2 separate regions of the Homo sapiens genome follow, and region 2 is linked to region 1. A link means that fine-mapping ties the variant in region 1 to the expression of a gene that starts in the linked region. Tissue or cell type: whole blood. Region 1 holds a variant in brackets; the other region holds the start of a gene. All regions are shown on one strand. Distances are between the middles of the regions.

The links. PIP is the estimated chance that this variant, and not a neighbour inherited with it, causes the effect.
Region 2: EIF3L starts here. The variant in region 1 is fine-mapped to the expression of EIF3L in whole blood (INTERVAL, PIP above 0.99).

Annotation. Positions count from the first base shown.
Region 1 is chr22:37,997,211-38,002,408 of GRCh38, reverse strand. It overlaps a transcript of POLR2F not described here. Among named protein-coding and RNA genes, the nearest start is that of MIR4534, 11 kb to the right of the region's middle. RefSeq lists a silencer at 3,533-3,827 and an enhancer at 3,217-4,071. The variant C/T (reference allele first, on the strand shown) is at 2,532.
Region 2 is chr22:37,847,075-37,852,202 of GRCh38, reverse strand. EIF3L (eukaryotic translation initiation factor 3 subunit L) reads right to left here and starts at 2,784. Exons shown (of 13, transcript NM_016091.4): 1 at 2,721-2,784; 2 at 2,140-2,188; 3 at 713-923. The coding sequence starts at 2,753. It overlaps MIR659 (microRNA 659), which reads left to right and starts at 4,429; the gene lies at 4,429-4,525. It also overlaps a transcript of ANKRD54 not described here. RefSeq lists enhancers at 2,098-2,619, 2,620-3,142, 3,143-3,665.

The DNA of each region.
Region 1 (5,198 bases):
ACCCCACATTGCATCAAGCATGTTGAAATGTACCCACGTCACATGCTACATAGAACTGGTTGGCTATAAACAAGTTTTAAAGAGTCTTTTTTATTTTTCATTTAAAATTTTGAATAATTTCTCTGTTGCTATTTTTGTATACTTTGGAGCTGGAGTTTTCTTCTTTAGTTCTTAAGCACTTTTGTGGCCCAATAAAAAGTCTAGAAGTGATATGCTTTGTCCAAGTTTGGGGAAAAAAATAAATTAAAAAAAAAAAAAAGGCCAGGTGTGCTGGCTCGCGCATGTAATCCTAGCACTTTGAGAGGCTGAGGTGGATGGATCACCCGAGGTCAGGAGTTTGGGACCAGCCTGACCAACATGGTGAAACCTGGTCTCTACTAAAAATACAAAAATTTGTATTTTCGTATTTTTACAAAATACAGGCATGGTGGCAGGTGCCTGTAATCCCAGCTACTCAGGAGGCGGAAGTGGGAGAATTGCTTGAGCCCAGGAGGCAGAGGTTGCAGTGAGCCAAGATCATGCCACTGCACTCCAGTCTGGGCACCAGAGTGAGACTCCATCCAAAAAAAACCACTTGGCCAGGCAAGGTGGCTCACACTTGTAATCCCAGCACTTGGAAAGGCCTAAGCGGGCAGATCACTTGAGGTCAGGAGATGGAGACCAGCCTGGCCAACATGGTGAAACCCCATCTCTACTAAAAATACAAAAATTAGTCAGGCATAGTGGTACATGCCTGTAATCCCAGCTACTCAGGAGGCTGAGGCAGGAGAATCGCTTGAACCTGGGAGGCAGAGGTTGCAGTGAGCCGACATTATACCATAGCACTCCAGCCTGGGCAACAGAATGAGACTCCATCCAAAAAACAAACAAAGCAACTCTATAGTCCAGGAGCCTCCAATGTCAGGCATTCACTGTCTCCATCCCAGTGCTCATCGCTCTCTGTGTCCCCAAAATGAATAAATTCGTAAATTCCCCTAAAAATCTATCTTTAATCTCTCTGAATCTAATATGATGCAACTCACATTATTTCTGTATCTGTCAACTGTGTCTCTATAAGATACTTCTGTAATTTTTATCTGTTCTCTCTAAAGATCTCTGTTCACAACACACTGGGTGTCCAGCAGGCACGGTCGAGAGCCTGCCATGGCCCATGTGTTACCGTTCTTGAGCCTTGCAACAACTCATGAATAAATTCTATTATCCCTGTTTTACAGATTAGGAAACTGAGGCTGAGAGAGGGGAACTAGCTTGCAAGTAAGAGGCCACAGGGCAAAGAAGGGCTCTCAGGAGTGTTGACTCTAGTCCTTCTCTAACCTCTCTCAACCCCTCCTCTCAGTGGTGCTGCACCCATGCCAGCCGCCACTCCTTACTTGCTCCTTTTCCTACCCTCTGCTTCCAGGCAAGACGCAGATGTCATCTCCGTTCATACCCTTCATCTTGCCTCAACATCATCACCCCATTCCATCCCATAAACACTTCCTGAGTTCCTACTATGTGCCAAGCGCTGTGCTGAGAACTGGAATGAAAATAATGAATGCCAAGGTCACCAGGCTATGAGCTCCGAGGGCAGGGACAGAGCCCACAGCAGAGTTGGTGGGTCCTCATCAGCCCCTGTGAAGTGCCTGTGGTCTCCATATGTTCCCAAAGGAAGCTGGTTTCACTTTGAGCATGTTGGAGAATGTTATTTCAAACACCTTACACCTCCAAAGCCAGGCAGGGAGCCCTGGGCTGCCCCTCCTCAATGGTGTTGGCTTATTCCTCTGGGTGGGGCCTGTGTCCAGCAGCCCCTGGGCTGGTGACACCAACCACCCTAGTGCCCTGCACAGACTGCAGAGGAACACAGGGTCAGCACCATCTCGAGGGGCCCAAAGCCACCCTCCTGATAACCCCCCATATTTGGAAAGCACTTTAGTTTGCAAAAGGCTCCACCTTCTTTCTCCGTGTGTCCTCTCCCCACCCCAGCTATAAGTAAGGAATTTTCCCAGCCCACTTGGCCCCTAGCATCCAAGTTTGGGCAAGAACCCAGGAGTCCAGACTCCTAGCCCAATGTAGAAGAGCCTGCCAACTCTGTTTACTCCACAGTGCCCCAGAAAGGCCCTCTCTTTTCTAGACCTCAGCTCCCTGTCAGTACAATAAGAAGGTCCGGCTGGACAACCGCTAAGCTCCCTTCAGGCTTTAGCATGCCAGAGTCTACCGTGGGGGCGCAGGTGGCCAACTCCCAGGGGAGGAACCGAGGCCAGTGGCTGCACACACTGTGCCTGCACCATGCCGTCAGGGGAGGCATCATGTTCCGGCAGGACCAGCAGGATGAGTCACCAGATATGGAAATGACGCTGGCACACAGGAGGTCTGGGGGCCAATAAGCTCACCCTCGCCAAAACCACAGCTGAGGAGGAACAGTGCTGGGATCCCTGCGATTCGCCTAGCGGGCACAGGCTGCCAGGTGCAGATCCAGGCAGTCAAATGGTGTGCACAGTGTGCCTTCCAGCCCAAGGGTAGTGGAGGCTGCCCAGCCCTCCAATAACAATAAT[C/T]ATCACAATAAAAATAACAACACACAGTGGTTGGCTATTGTGTCGGGCACTTGACACCTGTTACCTTCTCTTACCTCTGAACCTGCCAGTTATGACATGACCCATTTTCAAGAGGAAACCCCGGGGCTCAGAGAGACAAAGGAGCTCTGCCCAGGTCACAGGGCCAAGGAGTGGGGCACCCTGCTCTGACTGCCCCAAAGCCCTCATCCTCCGCACCCCACTGCCTCTGCGTCCCACAGAGTCTAGGCTCATTTCGGCTCGGTGGCCAGCCTGAGGCCCTGGGGAGGGGAAGGGGTGTCAGGACGCCCAGGTGCAGATGACCTGGGAGGATTCTGACTCAGCCCCACAACTGGAGCAGGAGAGCACCACACCCTCCTAGGCCTCCTGGAGCCTCGCCAAGGCCTTCCTTAGGGTATGACATTCGGATGTCAGGAGACCTGCTGGTCCTCAGTGACCACAGGCCAGGCTGAGGCTGCCACAGGGGCCTGAGCTGACGAGGAAGGCTGAGCCCCCTGTGATGGCCGACAAGCTCCAGCATCCCCACACGCAGGCGGCCAAAGGTGCCTGCAGCCACCCGGTAGAAATGTGTCTGAACTGGGCCTGGAGCCAGGCAAGTGGGGCTCCTGGATCCTGGGACAGAGGGTACAACTCAGGACCCCAGGCTGGCACTCCACAGCACCATCCCCAGGGCATTTCCCACAAGGAGCACCTGGATCTCTCAGCAAAGATGGGGGCAGACTGGGAGAGCCCAGGAACTCAGGGCCAGCTGCCCAGCAGGCCCACCTCGGGGTAGAGGGTACGGCCGTCTGGGAATGAGGGAAGACAGAAGGGGGAGGCCCTGGGTGAGGGAATGACAGGAGGGGGTCTTCATCTTGTGTAGGGACGGGGGCGCATCTGTGGTGAAAAGCAGGACCCATCTTGGGGCGGCGGGTCCTCCTACCAGGGCGGGCTCCTGTACCAGCCAGACCCTAATGCCCTGCCTTTGACATCTCCGTCTCAGCCCCCACCACACCTCTCCTCTCCTCTCCTCTCCTCTCCTCTCCCTCTCTCTCTCCCTCTCACATTCCTCTGGGAGTCGATCAGTGCTTGAGTGACACCCCAGATGACTCTTTGCTATTAATTCCCACACACAGAATGGGCCCCTTGTTCTCTTCTCTCGGAGGAATGGCCGTGGCCAAAGCCATCCCAAGAGTCCCTGACTTAACCCTTCTCCTGGCCGGTCCTCTGCACATCCCACGCCCAGGGCCACAGGGCCAGCAGTAGGGAGGGTGCAGAGAGGGAGTCTGGAAGGAACAGGGGCTCCTTCCAGCCCACAGCCCCTGGAATAAAGTCCCCAGGGTGGGACAGCAGGACCACCCCAACCTGCCCAGGGAGCCTGACAGCAACTCCTCACCTGAGGTTCTCACCAGGCCCTGGAAGTCAGAAGGCCTGTCCAGATGTAAGTGTGAGGCCCAGGGTCCACAGCCTCCCCAGGGCCAGCCTGATGTCTCTGGACCCCAGGGAGGCCCCTTCAAGGGGCAGGTGGAAGGCTCAGACCCTCGGCCCGGCCCTGGCCTTGAGGGAGTTAACACGGACTGGAGGCAGGACACCACCTGTCAGGGCAGGTCTCTGAGGAGAGATGAGGCGGCCATGGCCTCTTTTGATCACAGGATAAATTGCTCCGTTGAGTAAAAGCCCAACATCCCCTCATTCCCTGCCCCTGCCCCACCCCCAATCGACCAGAGGCGGGAAGGAAAGGCTTAGACAATGAGAGAGAGGGAAGAGCTTGTGAGGAGAAACTGAGGCCCCGGGAGGGGAAGAACATACCCCTCCACTCCCACTTCCCACCCTCTCCCTGCCTCTTCCCCAATTCCACAAGCCGTCTTGGCTCTCTGGGCGCTGGAAAGCTCTCACCGGAAGGGGACACAAACACCTGCTCTTCCATCAATCTGGGCAACCCTGGCTCTCGCGCCAGGAGATGGTACAAATCCTGCGGTCCATGACTCTGTGAGGGTCGTGTCCTAGGGAGGCTCGGACGCATCCTTACCTCCTGCCTGTCCCCCCTCGACAGACGGTGAGCTGTGGGCTCACAGGAGGTGAGGTCCCTGGGACAGCCAGAGAAAGGGCCCCGGGGCAGTCTCAGGGAAGCTGGAAATGGGAAGAGGGAGATGCGGAGCTGGGCACAGGCACGAGGGAGGGGCAGGGTGACCCAGGGCATGCAGGGGACAGAGCCGGGTGTCCTGGGGAAGGTAGGCTGGAGCCAGGTGGGGAAGACTGCAGGTTGCCACAAGCCTTGGCTTCTCTAACTTGTCAGCTCTCCCCATCTCTGTCATTTTCCCAGGGTCCTCCCCACATTTACAGAGGCAGGGCAGATGAGAGGTGGCACAGGACAGAGACAGAGAAATTCATGGAGGGAGGGACAGAGAGAACGCATCAGGGAGAGAAAAACAGGGAGAGACAGAGACAGGGCTGGAGAGAGACAGGGAGCCAGGGCAGGAGGGCCAGGACAAGAAGGACACCAAGAGGCAGGAGCGACCAACTGTGGGATGTGGGGTCAAAATTAAAAAGCTTCCCAGAGAGAGGAGGCTGGGGACAGAAAGAGGAGAAGGAGGGAGCAATGGACAGAGAAAGAAACAAGGTGGAGGCCGAAGTGGAAAAGAAGGGAGAAAGGTCAGGGGGAAGAGGCCT
Region 2 (5,128 bases), 150 kb after region 1:
CCTGGTAATAAAAACAAATGCTAATCATTATTATTATAATTGTTAATAGTGATATTATTTTAGGCTTTGTATAAATTTCTGAGGATATAAAGTCCAACAGGCCGGGCATGGTGGCTCACGCTTGTAATCCTAGCACTCTGGGAGGCCAACGGGGGTACATCACTTGAGGTCAGAAGTTCAAGACCAGCCTGGCCAACATGATGAAACCCCGTCTCTACTAAAAATACAAAAATTAGGCCAGGCATGGTGGCTCCCACCTGTAATCCCAGTGCTTTGGGAGGCTGAGGCGGGTGGATCACTTGAGGTCAGGGGTTCAACACACGCCTGGCCAACATGGTGAAATTCTGTCTCTACTAAAAATACAAAAAAATTAACTAGGCATGGTGGCACATGCCTGTAGTCCCAGCTACTCGGGAAGCTGAGGCTGGAGAATCACTTGAACCCAGGAGGCGGAGGTTGCAGTGAGCCGAGATCTTGCCACTGCACTCCAGCCTGGGCGACAGAGTGACACTCCGTTTCAAAAAATAAACAAATGCATAAATAAAATAAAGTCTAACAAAATAAAATGTCCCTAGCCTCAAGGACTCACAAAGACCCCCACCCCCCAACCCCCCCGAAAGTACTGTTTACAGAGTGCTCACCTCATTTGTAGGAACTATATTACCAGGCCAGTCCCACCCAGAAAGAGGCCCTTTCAGCCAGTAGCCCATACCTGTTCTCATAGATGTCCTGGATCTCATACACCTTCTGGTCAATGACATCACTGGAGACACGACTGGCCTGTAGCTCATACACTTTCTGGTCAATCAAATCTGAGACAGTTTTGTGGAAATACTGGATGAAGTTTTTGATCACCTCAGGGATCACCTGATAGGTTTGCTGTTCATACTGACGTTCATAAGCAAGGTCCTGCTTTGGATCTCCTGGAGGTTGGATACAACAAATACAGAGTATGCTCAAACCCACATATATGATAGAACGAAATGGCAAGACCACCCCAGAAACTAAACTCAGGTCTGCGTAAAATTCCCTTTTGAATACTCAGAGATACAAACATCTCAAGTCACTCCCAATCTCGTTGTCCCTGTTTCTTCAAAAATATTACCATGACTTAAAGTTATTTTTCACTTATTATCTGTTTTGCACCCTTCTCCCAAGTCTAGGAAGTCAGGAATCTCGTCTGTCTTGTACTCAGACATACCCTCAGGGCCTAGAAAAGTGTGCGTTGGAGGGGAGAGAGGCAAGACTGTTGGAAAGTAAGTGGTAACAGGTACTTAATATTTCTTGAATGAATAACTGTCACCTTTTAAATATATGACTGTGCCAAGTTACTACTAATAAACCTCTCTGCTATATTTTCTATTCTTTAGGAGACATTAACATACAGAACTGCTGTAAGGATTAAACAAAATATTTCATACAAAGTACTTAGAACAATGGATAACACTGACTACTAAGTCAAGTCACTATAACGTTTCAGGAAACCTCAGACACCTCCTAAAAAGATTTCATTCGGGCTTGGTTTGAATTACTTAAATTTTTCACATCAAGATTTTCTTCCTTGGGGCAGGCGCGGTGGCTCACGCCTGTAATCCCAGCACTTTGGGAGGTTGGGGCGGGTGGATCACCTGAGGTCAGGAGTTCAAGACCAGCCTGGACAACACGGCGAAACCTCGTCTCTATTAAAAAAATTTAAAAATTAGCTGGGAATGGTGGTGGGCGCCTGTAATCCCAGCTACTCAGGAGGCTGAGACAAGAGAACTACTGCTTGAACGAGGGACGCGGAGGTTGCAGTGAGCCGAGATCGCACCACTGCACTCCAGCCTGGGGGACAGAGGGAAACTCCATCTCAAAAACAAAAACAAAAACAAAAACAAAAAAGCTTTTCTTATTTGGCTAATAGTTTACACAAGAAAACCATAGCCAGGTAAGTAATCCTTCTCTTCCAAGACTGAGGTGGACTATGATAAAAAGCCTGGTTTATTAGGCTTTATAAAACCCCTCGCACTGGCAGCTAATGACTGACTCCAAACCTGGACCATCAAAGAGCAATTTTTGATGCCTGTCAGAGCTGGTTCTAAGACATTCCAAAGGAACTGATCCCTACGAGTACTCAGCCAGCCTAACCCGTGGTCTCACCTGTGTGCATATCATAGTCGCTGGGATAAGCGTAGGGGTCATAAGCCGCCTAGAAGGAAAGAGACACAGTCAAGGACAGCCGCCAAGTCGTGAATTCAAAACGCTCATCCTAGAGTCTAGATGCCAAGCAGAGAGCTAAGGATACAGAGGCGAATAAGACACTGTGCCTGCCTTTGAGGAACTCACACGCCTTAGAGAAAAGGGACAGTAAACAGACAATGACAATACAACATTACGGGTGCAATGAGGTGGAGCAAAGGACAAGAGGCTGTGGGAATCAGCGAGATTTGACCAGACGGAGCCTAGACCAAAAAAACTCAGGTGCAGAAACACAGAAACGTCTAACAGGCCTTAGTCTCCGGTCTTAGAAAGGGGAAGGACAAGCCAATCGAACACGCGAAGTGGGCGGGCAGAGCCAGGGTTGTCTAGGGACCGGGAACTGTGGGAGCAGCCTGAGGGCCGGGCGGGAGGTCGGCCGGAGCTGGCCGCGACCCGGAAGCTGCCTCGCGCCGGGACCCACATCCAGTGGTCCCAGAGATCACCCCGTCGTGGAGCCCACCGCGCCCTTACGGCCACCTTACCTCAGACTCATAATCATCAGCGGGATAAGACATGGCTGCCTCGCTTGCGAGCACCGCCGGAAAGAGCGAAATGAGCGGCCCGCGCCTGCGTCCTGAGGCCGGAAGTTCAGCCCCACTCGGGCCTGCCGGGAAACCGGAAGCCTTTCCGAGGCCTCTGGCCATCTGAGACAGCCATATCCAGAAGGAAGAGGAGCCGCGTTCCGTGGCTCACACCTGTAACCCCACCAGTTTGGGAGGCCGAGGCGGGCGGATCACCTGAGGCTGAGGCCGGGGGTTTGAGACCAGCCTGACCAATATGGAGAAACCCCGTCTCTACTAAAAATACAAAATTAGCCGGGAGTGGTGGCGCATGCCTGTAATTCCAGCTACTCGGGAGGCTGAGGCAGGAGAGTCGCTTGAACCCGGGAGGCGGAGGTTGCGGTGAGCCGAGATCGCGCCATTGCACTCTAGCCTGGGCAACAAGAGGGAAAACTCCGTCTAAAAAGAATAAGAGGGTTACAAGTAGCCTGAATTTTCCTCTCTTCAAATAGGGACTTCTCAAAGAAGGTGAATCTATAATAGTGGTGTAGATTCAGATATAAGGACACGTATTTGGCGTAAAGGAGAGGCAAAGTTAGAGGAACCAGAAAGAATGCTACACAAAAGATGGCCGGCTTCTCGCGTGAAGGAAGATTCGGATACGGGGGCCTGATGGATTTAGTTGTAGGCGGTTTGCCTGCAGCGAGTAAATTATTCAAACGTTCGGACTTCACAAGACTAAACTTACTGGGGATAAAAATTGAGATTTGGCCGGGCGCGATGGCTCACGCCTGTAATCCCTACACTTTGGGAGGCCGAGGCGGGTGGATGATCTGAGATCAGGAGTTCGAGACCAGCCTGGCCGAAATGGCGAAACCCCGTCTCTATTAAAAATACAAAAATTAGCCGGGAGTGGTAGCGTCCGCCTGTAATCCCAGCTACTCAGGAGGCTGAAGCAGGAGAATCGGTGGAACCTGAGAGGCAGAGGCTGTAGTGAGCCGAGATCGCGCCACTGCACTCCAGCCTGGGCGACAGAGCAAGACTCCGTCTAAAAAAAAAAAGAAAAAAAAAAATTGAGATTTGGTCCCATGCAGTAAGAGGGAATGGAGAACAGGAGCCACCCAACTTTGGACATTAAAGTTGGAGCAGGCAAAGATGAGGCCAGCTGTGTCGCGAAGCCTGGGACATGGGCAGCTCTTGAGTACACCGGGTTCGAGGCCAGGGGAAACCCTCAAGGTAGAGATGGGGTTATAAAGCAAACCAATAAAAACCGGTGTATGAGTCAAGGAGAGGCCTTAGTTTAGCCATCTGCCCATACACAACACCTAGTGGAAATCCGAGTTCCAGTCCCTACTCCGCCACTGATTTGCTGTGTGACCAGGACTCTCTGGGTCCCTTTGTCACGCCGCCCTCCTTGCTTTTCCCACTGAGGCACGCTCCACCTCTGGGATTTTGCACTCACTGTTATCCAAGTCTAGAATCGAATGCAGTGGCACCCCCACTCCCATTCCCTTCCCCATCGGTATCTGCATGGCACCTTCAGGTGTCTGCTCTGATGCCATCCACTCAACATCCTATTGAGAATTGCAATGCCCAGCCCCAACTCCCTATGCTGCGTTCTTGTTTTGTGTTTCTTCCTTGTGCTGTCACCAGAGGTGACACAAATTTGGAAATAATGGAGCTTAAGCTTTACCGACCCTCGATTTGGTTCAGGACCTTCCCTGAACCAAGGAAGAGTCACAGTCTCTTCCTTGGTTCAGGGAGGGTCCCCAACAATGTCCTCATGGTCCTTTGCTTTTGTAAAATTTGTGAAATATTTTTATTGCTGAAACCACCTTTGCAAAAATTGTAACAGTGAGAAAATAATGACAGTGAAAGAGATCTGATCTAACCAACCCTCATCTTCCATTTAATCTTCAGACTGCCCTTAATCATTCCTGGCTCGAACCGAGCTAACTTTGGGAGACATTTAGTTTCTAGTTTAAATAATAACCCTTCTCCGAGGCCTGGCACAGTGGTTCACACCTGTAATCCCAGCACTTTGGGAGGCCAAGGCAGATGGATCACCTGAGGTCAGGAGTTCGAGACCAGCCTGGCCAACATAGTGAAACCCCGTCTCTACTAAAAATATAAAATTAGCCGGGCATGGTGGCATATGCCTGTAGTCCCAGCTACTCGGGAGGCTGAGGCAGGAGAATCACTTGAACCTAGGAGGCGGAGGTTGTGGTGAGCCAAGATTGCACCACTGCACTCCAGCCTGGGCAACAAGAGCAAAACTGCCTCAAAAAAAAAAAGAAAAAAGAAAAGAAATTGGCCGGGCGCGGTGGCTCACGCCTGTAATCCCAGCACTTTGGGAGGCCGAGGCGGGTGGATCATGAGGTCAGGAGATC